Linked DNA regions of Homo sapiens: region 1 is linked to region 2. Evidence: fine-mapped expression QTL. A gene starts in region 2. The other region holds a variant in brackets. All regions are shown on one strand. Distances are between the middles of the regions.

The links. PIP is the estimated chance that this variant, and not a neighbour inherited with it, causes the effect.
Region 1: its variant is fine-mapped to the expression of CCNB2 in tibial nerve (GTEx, PIP above 0.99).

What each region holds. Positions count from the first base shown.
Region 1 is chr15:59,128,078-59,140,083 of GRCh38, forward strand. It overlaps MYO1E (myosin IE), which reads right to left. Exons shown (of 28, transcript NM_004998.4): 27 at 10,121-10,290; 28 at 4,357-9,379. The coding sequence ends at 9,303. Among named protein-coding and RNA genes, the nearest start is that of CCNB2, 29 kb to the left of the region's middle. RefSeq lists enhancers at 3,359-3,858, 10,133-10,427. The variant C/T (reference allele first, on the strand shown) is at 7,531.
Region 2 is chr15:59,100,504-59,112,509 of GRCh38, forward strand. CCNB2 (cyclin B2) reads left to right here and starts at 4,643. Exons shown (of 9, transcript NM_004701.4): 1 at 4,643-4,789; 2 at 6,819-6,947; 3 at 7,054-7,167. The coding sequence starts at 4,766. RefSeq lists an enhancer at 4,166-4,455.

The DNA.
Region 1 (12,006 bases), 28 kb after region 2:
TCTTTTTCTATTGTTTGGAATAGTTTCAGAAGGAATGGTACCAGCTCCTCTTTTTACCTCTGGTAGAATTTGGCTGCTAATCAGTCGGGTCCTGGACTTTTATGGTTGGTAGGCTATTAATTACTGCCTCAATTTCAGAACTTGTTATTGGTCTATTCAGGGATTCGACTTCTTCCTGGTTTAGTCTTGGGAGCGTGTGTGTGTCCAGGAATTTATCCATTTCTTCTAGATTTTCTAGTTTATTTGCGTAGAGGTGTTCATAGTATTCTCTGATGGTAGTTTACATTACTGTGGGATTGGTGGTGATATCCCCTTTATCATTTTTTATTGTGTCTATTTGATTCTTCTCTCTTTTCTTCTTTATTAGTCTGGCTAGCGGTCTTTGAAATTTTGTTGATCTTTTCAAAAAACCAGCTCCTGGATTCACTGATTTTTTTTGAAGGGTTTTTTTGTGTCTCTGTCTCCTTCAGTTCTGCTCCGATCTTAGTTATTTCTTGCCTTCTGCTAGCTTTTGAATATGCTTGCTGTTGCTTCTCTGGTTCTTTTAATTGTGATGTTAGAGTGTCGATTTTGGATCATTCCTGCTTTCACTTGTGGGCATTTAGTGCTATAAATTTCCCTCTACACACTGCTTTAAATGTGTCCCAGAGATTCTGGTGCCTTGTGTCTTTGTTCTCATTGGTTTCAAAGAACATCTTTATTTCTGCCTTCATTTCGTTATTTACCCAGTAGATATTCAGGAGCAGGTTGTTCAGTTTCCATTTAGTTGTGCGGTTTTGAGTGAGTTTCTTAATCCTGAGTTCTAATTTGATTGCACTGTGGTCTGAGAGACTGTTATGATTTCCATTCTTTTGCACTTGCTGAGGAGTGTTTTACTTCCAATTATGTGGTGAATTTTAGAATAAGTGTGATGTGGTGCTGAGAAGAATGTATACTCTGTTGATTTGTGGTGGAGAGTTCTGTAGATGATGGTTAGGTCTGCCTGATCCAGAGCCGAGTTCTAGTCCTGGATGTCCTTGTTAATTTTCTGTCTCATTGATCTGTCTAGTGTTGACAGTGGGGTGCTAAAGTCTCCCACTATTATTGTGTGGGAGTGAGTCTAAGTCTCCTTGTAGGTCTCTAAGAACTTGCCTTATGAATCTGGGTACTCCTGTATTGGGTGTGTATATATTTAGGATAGTTAGCTCTTCTTGTTGCATTGATCCCCTTACTATTATGTAATGCCTTGTCTCTTTTGATCTTTGTTCATTTGAAGTCTGTTTTATCAGAGACTAGGATTGCAACCCCTGCTTTTTTTTTTTTTTTTTTGGTTTCCATTTGCTTGGTAAATATTCCTCCATCCCTTTATTTTGAGGCTATGTGTGTTTTTGTGTGTGAGATGGGTCTCCTGCATACAGCGCAATGATGGGTCTTGAGTCTTTATCCAATTTGCCAGTCTGTGTCTTTTAATTGGGGCATTTAGCCCGTTTACATTTAAGGTTAATATTGTTATGTGTGAATTTGATTTTGTCATTATGATGCTAGCTATTTTGCCCGTTAGTAGATGCAGTTTCTTCATAGTGTCCATGGTCTTTATAATTTGGTATGTTTTTGCAGTGACTGGTACCAGTTGTTCGTTTCCATGTTTAGTGCTTCCTTCAGTAGCTCTTGTAAGGCAGGCCTGGTGGTGACAAAATCTTTCAGCATTTGCTTGCCTGTAAAGGATTTTATTTATCCTTCGCTTATGAAGGTTAGTTTGGCTGGATATGAAATTCTGGGTTGAAAATTCTTTGAATGTTGAATATTGGCCCCCACTTTCTTTTGGCTTGTAGGGTTTCTGCTGAGAGATCTGCTGTTAGTCTGATGTGCTTCCCTTTGTGGGTAACCCAACCTTTTTCTCTGGCTGCCCTTAACATTTTTTCCTTCATTTCAACCTTGGTGAATCTGATGATTATGTGTCTTGAGGTTGCTCTTCTCGAGGAATATCTTTGTGGTGTTCTCTGTATTTCCTGAATTTGAATGTTGTCCTGCCTTGCTAGGTTGGAGAAGTTCTCCTGGATAAATAACCTGAAGAGTGTTTTCCAACTTGGTTCTATTCTCCTTGTCACTTTCAGGTACACCACTCAAATGTATATTTGGTTTTTTCACATAGTCCCATATTTTTTAGAGGCTTTGTTAGTTTCTTTTTACTCTTTTTTCTCTAATCTTGTCTTCTCGCTTTATTTCATTGAGTTGATCTTCAATCTCTGATATCCTTTATTCTGCTTGATTTGGCTATTGATACTTGTGTGTTCTTCATGAAGTTCTTGTGCTGTGTTTTTCAGCTCCATTAGATCATTTATGTTCTTCTCTGAACTGGTTATTCTAGTTGGCGATTCGTCTAATCTTTTTTCAAGGTTTTTAGCTTCCTTGCATTGGGTTAGCACAGGTTCCTTTAGCTCGGAGGAGTTTATCACCCACCTTCTTAAACCTGCTTCTGTCAGTTTGTCAAACTTGTTCTCTGTCCAGGTTTGTTCCCGTGCTGGTGAGGAGTTGTGATCCTTTGGAGGAGAAGAGGCATTTTTTGGTTTTTGGAGTTTCCAGCCTTTTTGTGCTGGTTTCTCCCCATCTTCGTGGATTTATCTACCTTTGGTATTTGATGTTGGTGACCTTCGGATGGGGTCTCTGAGTAGACGTCCTTTTTGTTGATGTTGCTACTATTCCTTTCTGTTTGTTAATTTTCCTTGCAACAGGCCCCTTTTCTGCAGGTCTGCTGGAGTTTGCTGGAGGTCCACTCTAGACCCTGTTTGCCTGGGTATCACCAGCGGAGGCTGCAGAACAGCAAAGATTGCTGCCTGTTCCTTCCTCTGGAAGCTTCCTCCCAGAGGGGCACCCGTCAGATGCCAGCCAGAGCTCTCCTCTATGAGGTGTCTGTCGGCCCCTACTGGGAGGTGTCACCCAGACAGGATACACGGGGGTCAGGGACCCACTTGAGGAGGCAGCCTGTCCCTTATCAGAGCTCGAATGCTGTGCTGGGAAATCTGCTGCACTCTTCAGAGCTCTCAGGTAGGGACTTTTAAGTCTGCTGAAGCTGTGCCCACAGCCGCCCCTTCCCCCAGGTGCTCTGTCCCAGGGAGATGGGGGTTTTATGTATATGTCCCTGACTGGGGCTGCTGCCGTATCTTCAGAGATGCCCTGCCCAGGAAAGAGGAAATCTACAGAGGCAGTATGGCTGCAGCAGCCTGGCTGAGCTGCAGTGGGCTCTGCCCAGTTTGAACTTCCGGGCAGCTTTGTTTACACTGTGAGGGTAAAACCACCTACTCAAGCCTCAGCAATGGCAGGCACCCCTCCCCCAACCAAGCAGGTAATTTCTGCGTTTCCAACTGAGGTACCTGGTTCATCTCATTGGGACTGGTTGGACAGTGGGTGCAGCCCATGGAGGGCGAGCAGAAGTAGGGTGGAGTGTTGCCTTTCCCGGGAAGCGCAAGGGGTCGGAGGATTTCCCTTTCCTAGCCAAGGGAAGCCGTGAGAGACTGTACCTGGAGGAAAGGTACACTCCGGCCCAGACACTGCACTTTTCCCAGTCTTCACAACCGGCGGCAGACCAGCAGATTCCCTGTGGCGCCTGGCTCGTCAGGTCCAACCCCCACGGAGCCCAGCAAGCTAACACCCATTGGCTTGAAATTCTCACTGCTAGCTCAGCAGTCTGAGGTCGATCTGGGACGCTCGAACATTGTTTTCTACGGGGGGAGTGCATCCTCAGCCTCCAACCATTGACTTAAAAACAAAAACCATAAACATAGTGAGTCTCGTATAAAAACAACTTCCCAAGACGTTGGTTTAACAAGATGTTAATTGGTGTTGTAAGAGAAAGGAGTTAGTTAGTCAAATACACTTGTGAAACATTGCAAATGATTGGAAGATTCATAAAGGTTCTGTGCTTTGCAGTAAACTCATTTATCTCAGTTATTTTCCCCAACCTAGAGTGTGGTTGCCTCTTGCTGACAGAGAAATTCAGCGTCTGCTCTTTTGATTCAGGTGCAGCTTGAGGACAACTGCCCCTGGGGAGGAGAAACTGGCTCCAGTTAGGGCTGGCTTTTTACTCTCTTCCTGGGCAGGCAGGACTGCCTGACTAGTATGTCTTTAACTGTAAGTTTTGGGTATCTTTATATGCTGAAATCCTAGTATAGAGTTTTATGAATATCCCTTATTGGGTTAGTGAAGCTTGTTCCCATGGCAGCCTTGGACAACTCTGATCACAAGTGTGAATGGTAACGAAGTGAGACCATGAAAGGGAGCTTTCCTGGCTCTGACAAGCAGTTACTTCCCAGAGATGCTTGAGCTCAACTTCTCTCCAAGAACGCCTGAGTTTTGTAAGCATATTCCAAAGACATTTTATAGCTTCCTTATTACATATTTTACTTAGTTAAATATTAAATGTCCTGACTTAGGAAATTCTTCCAGGATGTCATAAAAAAAGACCTTTAAGATACTTTCTTAGATGGCACAGCAGGCACCCCAAACTAAAATGTCATAAATGGGAAATGAGTGGCAGAAGTAGAAACCATATCATAAAAACACGGAAATTAAAAATGAGATGATGTATCCATAGTATAGAAGAGCACTAACTCTGAACGTGGGTGCTTTGGGTTTGATTTTAAGTAGTGGTGATCTCTATACTTTAGTTTCTGTACCTGTGAAGTGGGGATAAGAGTGTCTCCCTCATAGGGTGGTGCTAAGTAAAGTATGCCAAGCACTTAGTATAGCTTCTAGTGTGAAGAAGATACTTGAACATAGCTGTTAATTATTTTAAAGAGAAGGTTAATGGTCTTGGAAAGAGATGAATCAGAGGATTCAGATTTGTTAGATGGAGCTCCTGCCCATTAAAGGAGCTTACAAGTTTCTAGCTGTTGAGTTTTATGCGTGAGTTTTCTTCTCTCTCTCTTTTTAAATAGACTTTTATGTTCTGAGAGGAAGATATTGGAAGTTGAAAGGCTGACACAGTAGACCATCACATTACTAAATATCTGTTGAATTGGAGAAAATGATTAAAAGCACAGGCCTTTTGGGCACAGTGGCTCATGCTTGTAATCCCAGAATTTTGGGAGGCCAAGGCGGGAAGACTGCTTGAGCCCAGAGCTTTGAGACCAGCTGGGCAACACAGGGAGACCCCATCTGTACAAATAATTAGCCGAATGTGGTGGCACATGCTTGTGGTCCCAGCTACTTGGGAGGCTGAGGTGGGAGGATCACCTGAGCCCTGGAGTTTGAGACTGCAGTAAGGCATGATCGCACCACTGTTCTCTAGTCTGGGTGACAAAGTGAGGTGCTGTCTGAAAATAAAAACGCACAGGCCTTTGACTCAGAGTTCCTGTGATGGCTCCCCCAGGGAAGAACTGTGTGACCTTGGGCGACCTAGTGAACCATACTGAGCCAGTCTTCTTGTTAGAAAGGGTGCTCAGAGTGGAAAGGTATGATCTAGTAGGGAAAAAGACATCAAGATTAGTGGGTAGGAATAAAACCAAGTTACTAAATCCAGAAAGAACTGCAATCAATCAGCTAGGCCTTGGGAGAAAAGCAAAACAGGGAAAGAGGGCAGAATTGCAGAAAGGCTCCTCTGGTCTTTCTTTTGATCACAAAAGTGAGGGGTGCCAGAAACACAGAGTTAAATTGTCTACCAAAGACGCACCGTTCATGCTCTGCTCTTGATTGCCCTGGAAACCAGAATCCAGCCCTACTGCCAGTGAAATCTTAACTGGGACAACACCTATAAAAGAAATGGTAGCAACTAGAGGCACAGGCTGACTTGGTGTGACCAGCTCCACTCAGGGAGGGTCTGGGGATGAGTTCAGGAGGGAGTCGCAAAGAGAAGGAATTTAGATTATGTAAAAGCCATGCTCTATGGAAGCCCATGGAGTTTGTAATTCATAAAGGCACATCCATATTTTCTCTTACTCATTTTTGTGAACACTTCCACCTGGCAGGAGCCCGCTGTCACTCTGGTGCTCTGGGTAAGCTGCTGAGACAGCTCTGTGCAGAGACCTCCAGCCCCCTTGAGTTGAGGCCACATGACTAAGCTCTGGCCAGCAGAATATTGGTGGACATGGTGTGCACACAGGGCAGGTCCTTTAAGGAGGAAACTGCACGATGCTTTTCTACCTTCATTGGGCTGGACTTGGTAGTAGTGGGGAGTCAGGTTTGATTACGATGGGCTGGGACCACACGTTGGGAGGTCAGTGGGTTGGCATCCTTCATGGTTGGGGAGCAAGCTTATTCAAGAAGGCTTCACCCTTTGTCCTCTCCACATGTCTCTGTATTGTTTCACAAAACACTGTGGAAGAGACGGCCCTTTTGCATGTCTTTAAGCCAGTTGGCCAGGTACGGTGGCTCTTGCCCATAATCCCAGCACTTTGAGAGGCTGAGGCAGGAGGATCGTTTGATCCCAGGAGTTTCAGATCAGCCTCTCTCTGTCTCACAGACGGCCATCAGTAGAGTGGATACCACCCTTATACAGACCTCTGTCTCTCTCTCTTCTACAACTAAAGCTTGAACACCTCTACCCTAGGGTACACAGTCAGGCCTTCTCATTTAGTTCCTGGTTACTTAAAACCTTTGGTTGAAGGGATGTCACATTTTTATACTGTGTTTGATACTGCTATACACGTTGCTGTGTGTGCACATGAACACCCCTTATTTCAAACAGGATGGCAAGTTCCAGAAGGTGGGGGTGGCCCCTTGATCTTCTGTATGTTCTTTCCTGGTAAGTGACTCCTAAAGTGGTCATATTTGCTTAACTGCACAGTGAACAAAATGGCAGGCCAGGCTAGATCCACAGACTAGAGGAAACCCAGGTTAGTGTCTTAAAGGGAAAAAAGACATTTTTCTGAAGACTTTTTAATTAGGAAAAAAAGGGAAATGTTATTTATCCCAGATTTTTCTGGTAGTCCCCATGTTGAATTTCTAAATATATACAAATAAGTTTAAGATAAACCACTATTTCTCCAAACTTTTCTTAATAGTGTCAGCATTTCAGCATCTCTACGCAGATCTAAGTCTCCTTCCCCTGTGGGTCACTTACCTATTTCAGCACCATTTGTTGGGCATCTCCTTGAGCCTGGCACTGGCTGGGCACACGATGCAGGTGCTAAGGGCTTGGTCTGTGATTTCCATGGATGAGGGTGTTACTCGTGGGGGTTTAACTCAGTCCCTGTTTTGTGACCTAGAGCCCGATGGTTCCCAGTTACACACAAGTGTAAAATGCCAATCAATCAATCAGGAGGAAAAACAAAGGCTTGTCCCAGCCAGCCAGGGGCTTATGATAACAAGGGAAGATGGTCCTGGTGTTCCTGCCCTGAGAACGCAGCCTGAGTGCTGGTGGCTGTGGGGACTCCAGCATGCTCCTCTGTCCCAGTTCTGGTGGTATCTTCCTCCCACTGCGGGGAGTCCATGAATGTGAAAGTACTTTAGAGACCACTAGTGTCAACAGGATTACCTTTCCTCAACTCACCGCATCATGGCTCTACTTTCCTCTCTGGTCGCAACATGGAACTGAAGTAGCCTTTTAACATTATT[C/T]GTTACTGTTACAGAATGGAGTTTGCTCCCTGTTCTTGAAGTAAAACACAGCAGAATTAAATGTATCTTCGTTTCAAATCTAGATCAATTTTTTTCCCTTATACGTAAGCCCTGATAATTTTTTCCCATGGACTTGAGGATCCTGAAAGCCTCAAAGGTGTATGCTGCTCAAACTCTAAGTTACCAGTAGCTTAAGAATGGCTATGGCACCCAGAGGAGGAAAGGTAGAGAAATGGCAGTCTCTACTTACAACCATTCCATTATTGATGGGCATTACACTGATTCCAGCTTTTCACTATTATGGCAAGAAAACATTGTTTTAGTTTGTTAGGGCTGCCGTAACAAACTACCACAAACCGAGTGGCTTAAACAGCGAAATGTATTGCCTCACAGTTCTGGAGGTTGGAAGTCCAAGACCAAGGTGGGCAGGGCTGGTTCCTTGTGAGGGTGTGAGGGAGAATCTGTTCCAGGCCTCTGTCCAGGGCTTGTGAATGGCTGTCTTCTCCCTGCCTTTTCACATGGTCTTTCCTCTGGCATGTTGGTCTCTGTGTCCAAATTTCCCCTTTTCATCAGGACACCATTATATTGGATTAAGACCCACTCTAATGACTTCATTTTAATTAGTTTTGTTTGTTTGCTCCATAAAGACTCTATTTCCAAATAAGGTCATATTGTGAGGTACTGGTGGCTGGGACTCCAACATCTTCTTTGGAGGCACACAATTCAACCCATAACAAATGTCATAAAAGAAGAAGGTGTTCGCCGATTCCTTTATTTATTTAGGAGGTGGGGGCAGGACGCGGAGTAAGTTTCCTATAGGGAAAGAGTTGAGAAGAGTCTGCAGGGACTGACCTAGAAAGCAGTGACACTCCGTAGTTGGAAAAAAGCAGAGCACATCTTTAAGTACCTGGTGTGAGTTTTGTAAGAAAACCTACCTTATGAATGAGTACAGTGGAATACTACTTAGTACATTCATACATGTTTCTACCATCTCAAGATTTTTATATATACAGTATATGATCTGTTTTTATAAATGTACAGCTTGAAAAAAGATCCTTCTTGTAGTAAGTACAGCATTTAAACACAAACCAATATGGGCCAGCCACATTCTAATTGAAGACCCAGAGAAAGCAAAGCCAGCAGCCCAGCCCCCAGCCCCCAGCCCCTGACCTGCTTGGCGGCCCTGATGGTCCCGGCAAAGTGTAAACCAGTGCCCCTCTGTCGCCCTGGGCTCAGCAGGCCAGCTTACCCTTGGCACGTACATGGGAAGTGCCTGCTCACGCTAAGCCCAGTCTGCAGAGGGCGGGTCCTCCCTGAAGGAAGGTGGCAGAGAGGAATGTGTCTATCAGGTATGGACAAGAGAGATGAAAGAAATGTGCTCTTCAACTAAAGGCACTTGTCAGCGGCCACCTACAGCCATTCTCTAGGCCTGGTGAGCAAGCAGGGTGCTGTTTTGATAGAAGCCTACAAGGTCTGAGCAGACCTCACTTGTCCTCTCACCAGGTTTAAATACAATAAATAAATCTTAATGCATGGTGGTTTTGTCCTCCTGGGTTCCTATGAAGAGGCTACCTTTTAGGATCACTTATGGAGTGATACTCCCTGTCCCCAACCCAGCCTTTTCAGTGTCCTCCATGGGGAAGGTACCAGAATAGCTCCAGGCCTTGGAGAAGCAATTGCTCATTGTGGATTGTAAGGGGAGCCCCTAAATATCCCCTCCCCTGGTCTGTGCCTGGAGCTCCTCTGCCCCATGTGTCAGAGTCACGGGCACCTCAGATCTTGGTCACATAGTTGTTGGGGAACAGGCCCTGCTTGCCTCGTAGTCGACCCGTCCACCAGCCAGAAGGATCTGCAGGGAGAGAGAGGTGGTGGAAGTGAAGATGAGAAAGTCTGTTCTGCCCCAGCCACACACACTCCGCTCCCATGGGCTCAAGTGATTTGGCTCCATCCATGTTGTTTTCCCTTTGTTCTTTAAATCAAAAAGTTTGTTGAAAAAAGTAAGATATCTACCAAATTAATAAAGCACTCAGCCAAGCCCATGGACTGCTTTAATAATGGATATTCAAGGTTGTCTTCCTGGCTTCCACTCCATCCACTTTCATTATGAAGAAGCCAGGAAGTGTGGGTGGGACAGACCTCCCCGTTTCTGGGGACAGCCCCTACCAGGTCTCATCCTCTCAGGGTACAGCCTTTGTCTTGCTACTGAAGTTGGTTCAGGGATGGACACATGGCTAATTTGGTCTGATCAGAATAAAAGTCAGGACTTTTGTCCAATGACTAAGAACAGAAGTTTCAGAGATGATGCACATTTCAGACATGGTTTGATATGTTGGCCTGGAATTGCTGCTGCCGTTTTGCTACCATGAAGAAAAACAGCTTGACAAGGGAGGGAATATAAATAAGGGGGCAGAGCTGAAAGAAGCATTAAAAAAGCTGGTGTCTTGATCAGACTGAGCCTGAGGCCTGACCTGCCTCTACAAATTGCAGTTTGAGGAGCCCATAAATTCTTTTCATTTTCACACTAGATCTTACAGCAATGTGACTGCATGCTCTTTGGGAGGCTGTCCCAGCCAACCAGCCACACACTTACCTTCTTTGATAATATCAATAATGTCATTGGCATTAAAGCTGAGTTCGTCTGTGTCCTGAGCGTCATAGGCATACAAAGCCTTGCACTGTGGCACCTGAGGCTTGGGCTTGGGCTGGGGCTTGGGTCTGCCCCCTGCTGGGGGAGGCCGACTGGTTGTTTGTCTCCTGACCCTGTGGAGAGAGTGGAGCAGATGAGACTGGGCCCCAACAGGGGGCAGCAGCACCGAACGGTGGTTTGGAGCATGGCGGCCGGCACTGGCCTGTTCAAGTTCAAATCCAGCTCCATCCTTAGAAGACATGTGGCCCAGGGTGCAGTCTTTAAACTTGAGGAATAAAAGTAACTTTTCTGACAAGGTTGTTGCAAATGCACATAGCTCTTAAAAACCTTAGCTGCTGTTGTCACTGTGTCCCCAGCATAGAAGGAAATGTGGGAGACACATATCCATAAAAAAGTGTCAAAAGTATACCCATACATTTAAATCAGGAACATTCAGGTATCTGTCCCTCCTTCCTCAAGTTTCGAAATGGAACTTTTGCAGGTGCCACAGAAGCCTGTAGGCATTTCTCCTTCACTGCATTCCCCCCAGATTACCACCACCTTACAGTTTGTATTAACCATTCTCTGGCTCATCTCTACAGTTTGCCACACATGTAAATACCCCTAGCCAATATTTGTGGTCCGACTGTCAACTGTATGAAAGGAATCATATTCCACGGTCACATGCTCAACAACTGGATGACGTGCCCTGCTGATGCCTGCAGCTATCGTTCCTTCACCCTTGCTGCCTGATACTACACCACTGCGCGAGTGAGTGTGTCACAGTTTACTTCTCCAGGGCACTGTGGATGGTCACTTGGGATGGTTCCAGTTTTCACTATTATAAAAAATGCTGCCATGAGATTTGCTCCCCATTCACAACCTTATTATGCCTCAGACCTCACTCCTGTCTACTCCCATCCCATCTATCCACCCACCCTCATTACTCCAGAGACTTCCCTCCCACCAGTTCATTATTACTCCTTAGACTTCCCTCCCATCCCTCATTATTACTCCTCACACTTCCCTCCCACCCCCTCATTATTACTCCTCAGGCTTCCCTCCCACCCCCCTCATTCCTCCTCAGACTTCCCTCCCAACCCCTCATTATTACTCCTCACACTTACCTCCCACCGCTCATTGTTACTCATCACACTTCCCTCCCATCCCTCATTATTACTCCTCACACTTCCCTCCCACCCCTTCATTATTACTCCTCACTTTCCTTTCACCCGCTCATTACTCTGCAGACTTCTTTCCCACCCCCTTATTACTCTGCAGACATCCCTCCTACCCCCTCATTATTACTCCTCAGACTTCCGTCTCACCTTCTCATTATTTCTTGTCAAACTTCCCTCCCATCCCTCATTATTACTCTGCAGACGGCCCTCCTACCCCTTCCTTATTACTCTACAGGCTTTTCTGCCCTCTCATTATTACTCCACAGATGTCCCTCCTACCCCTCATTATTACTCTGCAGACTTCCCTCCTACCTCCTCATTATTACTCCTCAGACTTCCCTCCCGTCCCTCATTATTACTCCTCACACTTCCCTCCGACCTGCTCATTATTACTCTGCAGACTTCCCTCATACCCTCATCATTACTCCACAATCTTCCCTCCCACCCCCTCATTATTAATCCACAGACTTCCCTCTCATTTTATCAATCAGTTATTACTCCTCAGGTCTCCTTCCCATTCTTTCATTATTACCCCTCAGAGCTCCCCTTTGCCCCTCCAAAAATGTTGCTGTAAATATTCTTATACAAGAGTTTATCCAGAGCAGTTTCTCAACATCTGCACTACTGACATTTGCGGCTGGGAATTCTCTGTTGTGTGTGTGTGTGTGT
Region 2 (12,006 bases):
GAATAGCTTGGGTCTCTATGGTGGTGACGCAGGACTCCAAGGGAGAAATAAACTGCTTCCTAAGACCCAATCCTGTTACTGGAACAGCATCTCTTCTTTCACATTCTGTTGGTTAAAGTAAATAACAAGGCTAGCCCAAATTTAAGGAGAGAGAAAATAGATTACACCTGTTCACAGAAGGCACTGCAAAAAAAAAAAAAAAAAAAAAAAGGGGGGCACTCTTTCATCCACCACAGTGAGGTAAAACAAGCCCCATTGTTTTGTTAGAATACCTAGCACAAGCTTTCTGAACGCATTTACTTCTCCCCCCAAACCAAAGCTTTGCATATAGAGAAGCGCATGTGCAAAATGATTTATATTCTCAGAGGAATCAGCAGTGAAAGAACTTTCCGTTTCCCAGTGTGATTGATTTATTATTATTATTATTTTTTTGAGACAGAGTCTCACTCTGTCACCCAGGCTGAAGTGCAGTGGCGTGATCTTGGCTCACTGCAACGTCCGCCACTCAGCCTCCCAAGTAGCTGGGACTACGGGCACACGCCACCATGCCTGGCTAATTTTTTTTTTTTTTTTTTTGTATTTTTAGTAGAGAAGGGGTTTCACTGTGTTAGCCAGGATGGTCTCCATCTCCTGACCTGGTGATCCACCCGCCTTGGCCTCCCAAGGTGCTGGGATTACAGGCATGAGCCACCATGCCAGGCCTCCTAGGGTGATATTTGAAAAAAAGAAATTTATGGATGGGCTGGGCATGGTGGTTCATTCCAGCACTTTGGGAGGCTGAGGCAGGAGGATCACTTGAGCCCAGGAGTTCGGGATCAGCCTAGGCAACATAGTGAGACCCCCATCTGTACAAACCATTTAAAAATCAGCCAGCCGAGTAGTCCCAGCTACTCGGGTGGCTGAGGTAGGAGGATCACTTGAGCCCGGGGGATTGAGGCTGCAGTGAGCTGTGATCACACTGCTGCATTCCAGCCTGGGTGACAGAGGGAGACCCTGTCTCAAAACAAGAAGTTTGTGTGTAAGGTTTTAGGTTAGTTACAGTGAGAAGTACAAAATAAGAAATATTATCTTCATTTTTAACACCTGTAATCTCAGCACTTTGGGAGGCCAAAGCCGGAGGATCTCTTGAGCTCAGGAGTTTGAGACCAACCTGGCAACATAGCAAGACCTCCTCTCTACAAATAAAAAAATTAGCTCGGTGAGGTGGCTCACTCCTGTGGTCCTAGATCCTCAGGAGGCTGAGGTGGGAGAATCACTTGAACCTGGCTGGTCAAGGCTTCAGTGAGCCATGATTGCACCATTGCACTCCAGCCTGGGCAACAGAGCAAGACGCCTTCTCAAAAAATAAAAAATAAAATAAAACGTGTTAATACAGATTCAATTACTCAATTTTGACAATGTCAAGTCGGTTAATAAAAGCACTATGCCCAGCCTAGGCAACACAGTGAGACCCTGTCTCTACAAAAATTTTTAAAAATTAGCTGGGAGTGGTGGCATATACTTGTAGTCCCAGCTACTCATGAGGCTGAGGCAGGAGAATGGTGTGAGACCAGGAGTTCGAGGCTGCAGTAAGCCGTGACTGCACCACTGCACTCCAGCCTGAGCAACAGAGCAAGACCCCGACAAAAATAAATAAATAAGAAAGCACCTTTACCGTTCATAAAAAAGCCCTATGAGTAAGCAAGCATTGTCACTTTTATGGTTGTATCTTTTGATAACATATCAACATAAAGCAAAAATATTTTACAACTTCAGTGCACTAAAACATCTATTTTTCTTTTCCAAGACTTTTCCATAGGATACCTAGTTTTTAGTTATGGGATGATTATGGATAGGCTAACATCTTTTCACATAGTAGCTGCAATTATTCCTGTTTCACCTAAGAGGAAACAAGTTCAGAACTGTCAGATGCCCTCCAACCAATAGGGATTGAGGCAATTTAGGAATTTAACTTTACATAAGTCTCGTCCAACCACACTGATTATTCGTCCCCAAGTAACAGAACCATTTAAGAATGATGGGAAAGCTCGGTCAAATTTTTATTTATTTATTTTTGAGACAGAGTCTCACTCTGTTGCCCAGGCTGGAATGCAGTGGTGCGAACTCGGCTCACTGCAACCTCTGTCTTCCAGGTTCAAGCGATTCTCCTGCCTCAGCCTACCGAGTAGCTGGGATTAGAGGCCTGCACCACCACGCCCAGCTAATTTTTGTATTTTTAATAGAGACTGGTTTTTACCATGTTGGCTAGGCTGATCTTGAACTCCTGACCTCAAGTGATCCACCTGCCTCAGCATCCCAAAGTGCTGGGATTACAGGTGTGAGCCACCATGCCAGGCCTTCAGATTCTTAATGGAACCTGATATCATGGGTGTTAGATCACTCCTTTCCTCTTTTCCTTCTCTTTTCCCATTAATCTCACTTTTTCCTTTCCTGTTTCTTTTTCTGTCTTGATCTTCACCTGCTTCTTTTTACAAGGGCAACATTAATACTGTTCTCTTTGGACTGTGCTAATCCTCCCACTCTTCTGCTCAAGACTGGTGTCACACCTTGTTTTTCATTCTTAAATCTTACATACATCATAAGATCATTTATTAGATGAATATTTTTTAATTAATACACTTAAATTTTATTTCAGTAGCTTTTGGGATATAAGTGGCTTTCTGTGATGTGGGTGAATTATATAGTGGTGAATTCTGAGATTTTAGTGTGCCCATCACCTAGGTAGTGTATATTTTATCTAATATGTAGGTTTCTATCCCTGTCTCCCCTTCCACCCTCCCTCTTCTGAGTCTCTAAATTCCATTATATCACTGTGTTTGCCTTTGTATATTCACAGCTTAGCTCCCACTTACAAGTGAAAACATACGGTTTTTGGTTTTCCACTCCTGAGTTACTTCACTTAGAATAATGGCCTCTAGCTCCATCCAGGTTGCTGCAAAAGACATTATTTTGTTCCTTTTTATTGCTGAGTAGTATTCCATGGTGTATATATACCACATTTTCTGTACCCACTCGGTCGATGGGCACTTAGGTTGGCAATTGTGAATTGTGCTGCTGTAAACATACATGTGCAAGTGTCTTCTTCATATAATGACTTCTTTTCCTTTGGGTAGATACCCAGTAGTGGAATTGCTGGACCAAATGGTAGAACTACTTTTTGTTCTTTAAGGAATCACCATACTTTTTTCCATAGAAGTTGTACATTCCTACCAGCAGTGTTTAAGCATTCCCTTTTCCCCACATCCACGCCTACACTGTTTTTTGACTATTGTTTTTTGAGGTTTTTTTTCTTTTTTAGACAGGGTTTCAATGTGTTGCCCAGGCTGGAGTACTGTGGCACAATCATGGCTCACTGCAGCCTCAGACTCATGGGATCAAGGGATCCTCCTGCCCCAACACACGGCCCCCCGCCCCCCGCCCCCCGCCCCCCTCCCAGTACCTGGGACTACAGGTGCTCACCACTACACCCGGCTAATATTTGTATTTTTGTAGAGACGGGGTTTTGCCATGTTGCCCAGGCTGGTCTTGAACACCTGGGCTCAAATGATCTGCCCAACAGGCCTCCCAAAGTGCTGGGATTACAGGTGTGAGCCACTGCGCCCGGCCTTTTTTTCTGACTTTTTAATGATGGCCATTCTTGCAGGAGTAAGGTGGTATCTCCTTGTGGTATTAACTTGCATTTCTTCGATGATCAGTGATGTTGAGCATTTTTTCATGTATTTGTTGGCCATTTGAATATCTTTTGAGAAATATCTATTCATGTCCTTTGCCCATTTTTTGATGGCATTATTTTCTTTCTTGCTGATTTGAGTTCCTTCTAGATTCTGGACACTAGGCCTTTTTCCGATGCATAGTTTGCAAATATTTTCTCTTAATCTGTGGTTGTCTATTATTTCTTTTGATGTGCAGAAGCTTTTTAGTTTAATTAGGTCCCATTTATGTATTTTTGTTTTTGTTGCATTTGCTTTTGGGGTCTTAGACATGAATTCTTTGCTTGGGCTGATTATTAGACGAACATTTATTGAGCACCAACCATATACGACAAACGATGTACTAGGTGTTGGGAATACAATGGAGAACTTACATGAATCACCAGTCACACAAATCTCTTTTATCTTTTTTTTTTTTTTTTTGCCTTACTTGAGAATTTGGGTTTTTGAGTAAACGCCATTATTCTCTCTTTTTTTAAGCACACTTTTGCATCTCAACCACCTAACACACTGCATCCCTGAGCAACCCGGAGGGGCCGGTTCCTGCACCCAGGCCAACACAACTTAAACCCCAACACACCAGAAGAGGAATAAAGGCCAACCAACTTCCGCCCACCCACTACAAACGTCGAGAGAAATTCGTAGATGAGGCCTTGTCAAAATTCAGAGGCGTCCTACGTCTGCTTTCCCAATGAGACAGTTCCTTTTTGTTTGTCTCAGAGACTGGGGTTTTTTTTTTTTTAAAAGACTGTAGGCAGAAAAAACACCCCAACCGGCTGTTGTGACAATCAAACGTGTCTAAGAAAATTCAGCCAATGAGAGTGCGAGAGTGCATCTTGTGTTGGCCAATGAGAACAGCGACCCGTGCGCAGGGCCGCCCAATGGGGCGCAAGCGACGCGGTATTTGAATCCTGGAACAAGGCTACAGCGTCGAAGATCCCCAGCGCTGCGGGCTCGGAGAGCAGTCCTAACGGCGCCTCGTACGCTAGTGTCCTCCCTTTTCAGTCCGCGTCCCTCCCTGGGCCGGGCTGGCACTCTTGCCTTCCCCGTCCCTCATGGCGCTGCTCCGACGCCCGACGGTGAGTGTGCCCGGGGACCGCTCTCAGAGGCGAGTCCGTCGGCCCCACAGCTCCCCTGTCGCTTCTCTCATCTGCTCCGAGCTTCTCCGTCCCAACCGGGGCTGCTTTTCTCTTCTCCGGAGCTCACTGCTTCGCCCGCGTCCCTGGCCCTGCGGCCGGTCCTCTCCGGCCCGCCTTTCCCCGTCTGGATTCCGCCCTCCCCTAACCCCTCCCTGCCCCGGGGTGGGAGAAGTGTAGGAAAGCGCTTCCGAGATGGCGCCTGTCAAGTGAGCCCCCAGAGCACTAGGCCTAGTACTCAGCGAGCGATCCCCGAGTGCTCTTCATTGCTAGAGAGTTATCTACTTCCACGTTCCTGGGATTTCCCTCCCCCTTTCTTACAACTCCTTGCCAACTAAGGGACCTGTGATGGCGGCTGGGAGGAGGACTGGAAGGGTTCTGTAGGCAGTAAAGTGTACGGCGTGTTTCATCAGGCAACTGCCAGGCTGTTTTTCAGATTGTTCACATTTCTTTTTGTATGAGTTTCCCATTTATTTCGGCACGCTAAGTCTTCCATGCTACGTTCACTAATAAATGGGTTTGTCCCCTTAAAAAATTAATTTCTTTACTCAAATGTAACAGAGGTTTTTGAATATAATTTGGACCAATGTGGCAGACTGAGAGAAAAGGGTCCAAATTCATTTATTTCATCCTTGCAGAGATCAAAGTGTTATGGTGTTTTGGGTATTTTTCCTGTGGGCTTGAATTGTACCGGGACCTACTTTTTTCCTTTGCCGAAAGCTAGAGGGCCCTGACACACCTGAGTTCCATCATCTTGGCTATAAGGTTAGATAAAAGCTGCCAATTTTCCTATCCAGATGAATTTAAATTGAGTCACATTACCAGGCTTCTACCCATAAGCATTACATTTTCAAACACTTTTTCAGATTGGCAGTTGCTGCTGGAAGAAATTGAAGTGTGACTTTTGAGAATCCTAATAGATTGAATACATTTAGCATTTAATTAATATCCTTTTGTGGATCTAAGTCCAACTGACAAGTAATTTTTTATAATAATGTATTCTATAACGTTATTTAATAGTCAAAACCTTTCTGTTCAGGGAAGGCTTGAGTTTCCCTGGCCCCTCTCTCTGCCTGGTAGATCCACTCAAACCCCTTGTTGGGAGTTTTATTAGAGTCGGGACCCTGAACTCTCAGGGATAGGACATGCTGGTTTTTTGCTTTTTTCTTTTTTAATGAAATGTTTATCACTTCTATAATAAACTTTTTTTGGTATGAGTTGCTTTTCCTAGCAAGTTTTATTTCCAAGCACATTATGTCTAAAGCAGGTTAAGGTCAACTGACAATTTTTATTTCATACAATTCCAACCTTCCCTGAGTTTGGGAGCTAAAACTATATTACTCAAGAAAACTACTTCCATTCTAAATGTCCTTAATATAAGAGAAAATCCATTCTATGGCAACCTCATTTTAAAAAGCTGTAGTTCTAAAAGATCATGCATACAGGAGCATTTCTTATTTGTGAAATGGCATAAGAATCAAAGCTAGTTTAGGTTTTAAACATCTGGTTTTTAAACAACCAGACCTATTATTAACTATTAATATTATAGCTTTATTATTTTTCATCTTAATTTACTTTTTACCAAGCTCTGTAAAGGAAGGTTTTTAAATATATGCCTTTAACTTGCAGGGATCTCTAACAAGTGATATGGGTACTATATGAGAAATAATCATTAAATACTAATAAGCTTTGAAGTTCTCTTACAGGCCCACTTGAATACTCAGAATAGCTTTGCAAGGTTAGTGGGAGGATCTTTATTACGGATAAAGTAGATGGGTGATTTGCCTAATTTAGAGTGATGTTATTAATCACAAATAGCATTTTTAGACTTCCTGAAATGTACCTTTTCCATCTTGCAAATAGATCTTGACGTATTGTCCTTTCCCAAAGCAATTCTAAATTTGAGTATCTAACATTAGCAAAGTATTTCAAATTCTTTCAAGGTTTCATTACTTTTTTTTTTTTTTTTCAGGTGTCCAGTGATTTGGAGAATATTGACACAGGAGTTAATTCTAAAGTTAAGAGTCATGTGACTATTAGGCGAACTGTTTTAGAAGAAATTGGAAATAGAGTTACAACCAGAGCAGCACAAGTAGCTAAGGTAACAATGATGAAGACTGAATGTGAATACAGAGGCCGATTCTGTATAGTGCTGAGTCCCACAACGCTGGCTGTCTTGCGCTATTCATGTTTCTTTTTCCTTATAGAAAGCTCAGAACACCAAAGTTCCAGTTCAACCCACCAAAACAACAAATGTCAACAAACAACTGAAACCTACTGCTTCTGTCAAACCAGTACAGATGGAAAAGTTGGCTCCAAAGGTAGGAAGTTCTGAATTTACAAACGTATTTAATGAGGTAGCCTGTTTTTAGCCAGACTACAAGGGTGCCTTTATCATTGCTGTACCTTCTAACGAACATTCATAGCTGGAGCTCTGCTTTGAAGCAATAGTGTAGGAAATGAGTATATACACCTTTTAACTTAATAACATTATGACCTTGAAGCTGGGCATGGTGGCTTATGCCTGTAATCTCAGCACTTTGAGAGGCTGAGGCAGGAGGATCGCCTGAGGCCAGGAATTCAAGGCTGCAATGTGCTATAATGGTGCCACTGCACTCTAGCCTGGACAGCGGAGCAAGACCTTGTCTCTGAAAAAAAAAAATAAATATTACGACCCTGAATAATAAAGTTGATTACCTTAATACCCAAATAAAGGACAGAATGGTTCAGAAAATTCATGGAATGAGTGAGATTTTTAGGGGTAGAGAGAAGATGATAGCTGACAGGAAAGGGCACGTTTGTGGAGAACAAAGTAGCAACAAAGATCAAGGTACCAAAGCGGATATGGACCTATAATCATGTCCTTTCGTTAAGGAGTCTGAAAGACTTAACTGAGTCAGGCGGCTTGAGTGAGGAACCAGAAGATAAGGCTGGGAAGAAGGTTGCAGTTGGATTTGAAGGACTTGGAATTTGGATTTTTATCCCATTAGGCTTGAGGAAACAAAGTTTTGAGGAGTACCGAAATGATGAAAACAATGTAGGGAGGTAAGTTAGGAGGTATTGCACTTATCCAAGCAAGAGCTGATGAGGGTCTGGAGCTAGCCCAGATCTTCCCTAAGCGCCTACCCATACACCAGTATCAATAGTGGGTATGAAGAAACAACATCAAATGTGTTAGGATGTCTCAGAATGTCTTTCATCTTGTATTTAGGAAAGAATACTTTGGACACATGGCTTGCACTGCAGGAGTGGTATCCTTACCCACTTGGATATTAAATAAACCATTTATGCAATAAATGAACAAAAAGTAGGAAAGTCAGGAGAGGGCGGTAGCTTTGGTAAAGGTATCCTGTTTGGCTTCCGATTTGTTGAGGTAACCGAGGGACATCTGCCTGGAAATGCAGTTGGAAATGTGGCAGCAACATCTGAAGGCAAGGAACAGATTTGTCAGCTTTCTTCACAGAGATGATGGTTGAAAGCTCTTTGCTCTTTATGAGAACTAAAGCTTAGAAAAAGTAGTTGAGATGGGACTTCATTTAAAAAGCCTTCCCTAGAAGGTTTCTATAACAGTGACCTCCTGAAAGCCAAACCCAAAGGCTGGTTTTCAGACCTTGATCTCTTAGCAGTTGTGCAGTGTTTTACATGTGTAATGGTTTGAATGTGGTTCCTCCCACATCGCAGGAGGGCGATTTGGCAGTATATGTATATATTTTTGGGGGGGGACGGAGTCTTGCTCTGTCGCCCAGGCTGCAGTTCAGTGGCTCGATCTCTGCTAACTGCAACCTCCGCCTCCCGGGTTCAAGCGATTCTCCTGTCTCAGCCTCCCGAGTAGCTGGGATTACAGGTGCATGCTACCATGCCCAGCTGATTTTCACTATGTTGGCCTGGCTGGTCTCCAACTCTTGACCTCAGGTGATCCACCTGCCCCCGCCCCTCAAAGTGCTGGGATTACAGGTGTGAGCCACTGCGCCTGGCGGTAGTATATTTCAAATGGTTATTCTCCATACCCAGTAGCTTTGTTTTTTATCCAAAGAAAATGATCAGAGGGATAATCAAGTACTTTTAGATAGTGCTATGATGAGTGTCTCTTATAGAGTAGAGAAATACCCTAGTTAAATCCATTTAAGGAAATACTATGCAGCCATAAATATCATGTTTTAGTAGAATATTTAAAGGCATCAAAATGCTTGTAACATTAAGTGGAAAAATCAGATTATAACAATATATAAACAGTGCAACCCCAGATTTGCTTTTAAAATGTACATTTGTATGCAGAATATTGATGGTAGTTATTTTTGAATATTATGTTGGACTTAAGATTGACTTTCATTTTCTTCCTTAAAACGTCAAACTTTGGCCGGGTGCAGTGGCTCACGCCTGTAATCCCAGCACTTTGGGAGGCCGAGGCGGGCGGATCGCGAGGTCAGGAGATCGAGACCATCCTGGCTAACACAGTAAAACCCCGTCTCTACTAAAAATACAAAAAATTAGCCGGGCGAGGTGGTGGGCGCCTGTAGTCCCAGCTACTTGGGAGGCTGAGGCAGGAGAATGGCGTGAACCCTGGGGGCCGGAGCCTGCAGTGAGCCGAGATTGTGCCACTGCACTCCAGCCTGGGCGACAGCGAGACTCTGTCTCAAAAAACAACAACAACAAAACAAGAACAAAAACAAAAAACTTCAAACTTTTACCATGGGTACATATTACTGTTCAAGTTAGAGAAGAAGAAAAGAAGGCTTTTTTTTTTCTTTTTTTAAAAGCAAAGACCATAAATATGTTACTAAAGAAACAAAGGGAAAAATAGTTTCCTCCTGTGACCTCCATAACTTCATCCTTTTTGTGTTTCCTTTACTCCTTGGCTGACTCCTTTTTCTCTTGCTTCCTGGCAAAATTGAGGCCACTGTTTGAGATAAAGCATTATGGACCCGTAGCTCAGTTCATATAAAAATCAATTCCAGGGTTGAAACATATAGCTACATGTTCTAGATTTAGAAGTTATGAGGAATTAATGAACAGGAATTATTTCCAATTCAAATACATTTCCCTCTGAGAAAGTAGTGAAGGAATCTCTAAGTCCACGATTTAGGTAGAGTCCCACCTTCTAGCAGGTGAGTCTCTCTGCCTGCCTGTCTCTGGTCAGCCTTCTGGCTTTTACTTTGTCATCTGCTTTATCTGCAGGGTTATCACTGTTCTTTAGAGCCAATCCCTGGAGGTGTGGAAATGCCACTTGAGTGCACAGGTTTCTATCAATTTTCCTGGAAAGGTGATAACATAAGCCATGTGTCCATGATAGGAGATGTTCCCAGTCTTCTAACCAAATTTATACTATCCTTTTTGCAAAACTGGAGGGCAGGTTTCTTTCTCTGTAGCAGTTGACACAACTGAATCACAAAGTGCCCTGGCTGAGACCTCGGAAGAGTTCCAGCCCTTTACAGGTAGTCATAGAAGCTTATTATCCTGCAGGTTTTGGAGAAAATGGTGTTTTTTGCTGATTAATGAGGCTTTGGTAAACACAGTAGTTAGAAAGGACATGGAAGGCTTTCTACTAGTCCCATGTTTGCTGGACACTGGGGAAACAAGTTGAATAAACCATCGATTCTGTCTAGAGGAGCTCCCAGTCAAGTTGGAGGACATAGGAGTAGAAGTATGGCTTTATCTGTCACAAAGAGAGATGCATGCTTATGAGAGGTACTGAGGAGTCATAGCTAGAACAGATTACCTGACCAGATGAGTAGGATCTTAGAAAGGGTCTTACAATAATTAAATTATGTTGGAGTTCAAAATGAATGCTTTCAAGGAATTCTAAATTAAGGGCCAGGGCAAGAATCTTTGTCTTATCCTAGTGGCTTTTGTTGTTGACTGCTTGATTGATGGAGAAGATCTCACTATGTTGCCCAGGTTGGACTCAAACTCCTGGGCACAAGCAATCCTCCCACCTTGGGCTTCCAAAGTGCCCGGATCACAGATGTGAGCCACCACGCCAAGCCCTTGGTGGCTTTTGGATATGGCTAAACTCAGTTGCACTTCTGAATAGGAGCCAGAAAAATATTCTAAAGTGGTATGATAGCACATGATAACCTCTATCTCCTTAAACCAGACTTTTTGTTATTGACTGCCCTTCCAGGGGTGGGTGATAATGCTTATCCTTGAAAAAGTTAACCTTCAGCTGAAGCTGCATATGCTTATTACAATGCAAATCTGATTCTAGTCACTTGATAAACTCCTTCAGTTTTTCACCTTAACGTTTGGATAAAATCTAAGCTTCTAGAAGCTCGGCTGTTGTTCAGCTTTTCAGCTCATCTTCTCATACCTCACAGGCTATCCTGCTGACATCTCAAATCAATTTGCAGTTCCCAGAATTGCCTTGATTTTCTTTGGTTTGCTTTTGCCTGTTCATCTTCCTTAAGGTCTTACCGTCTCTGGTACCCTGGGTACCTCTACTCATTTGTTCTAGCTCCTTGAGGTTTCCAGGTTCCCAAATTCTATTCTATTCTTTTCTTTCTTTCTTTCTTTTTTTTTTTTTTTTTGACAGAGTCTCACTCTGTCTCTAGGCTGGAGTACAGTGGCATAATCATGGGTCACTGCAGTTTTGATCTCCTGGGCTCAGGTGATTCTCCCATTTCAGCCTCCAAGTAGTTGGGACAACAAGTGTGCGCCACCATGCCTGGCTAATTTTTGTATTTTTTGTAGAGGCGAGGTTTTGCCATGTTTCCCAAGCTGGCCTCAAACTCCTGAGCTGAAGCAATCCACCTGCCTCAGCCTTCCAAAATGCTGGGATTACAGGTGTGAGCCACCGCACTTGGCCTGGGTTCTCAAATTCTTGTATAAATGGCATGCATGCCTGCATAGTTCTTGCTCACCTGGTTCTTCCTCAGTTTAAGACCTTTGATTTAAGAGGGGAGGACATGTTTTAAACTGTTTTTTTGTTTTGTTATTGTTGTTATTGATGCATCCTCGAAGACTGGAAATTATAATCATTGAGCTTTACTGTAAATTAAAATTGTCTTTTTTTTTTTGAGACAGAGTCTCGCTCTGTCACCCAGGCTGGAGTGCAGTGGTGTGATCTCCGCTCACTGCAACCTCTGCCTCCCAGGTTCAAACGATTCTCCTGCCTCAGCCTCCTGAGTAGCTGGGATTACAGGTGTGTGACACCACAGGCCCAG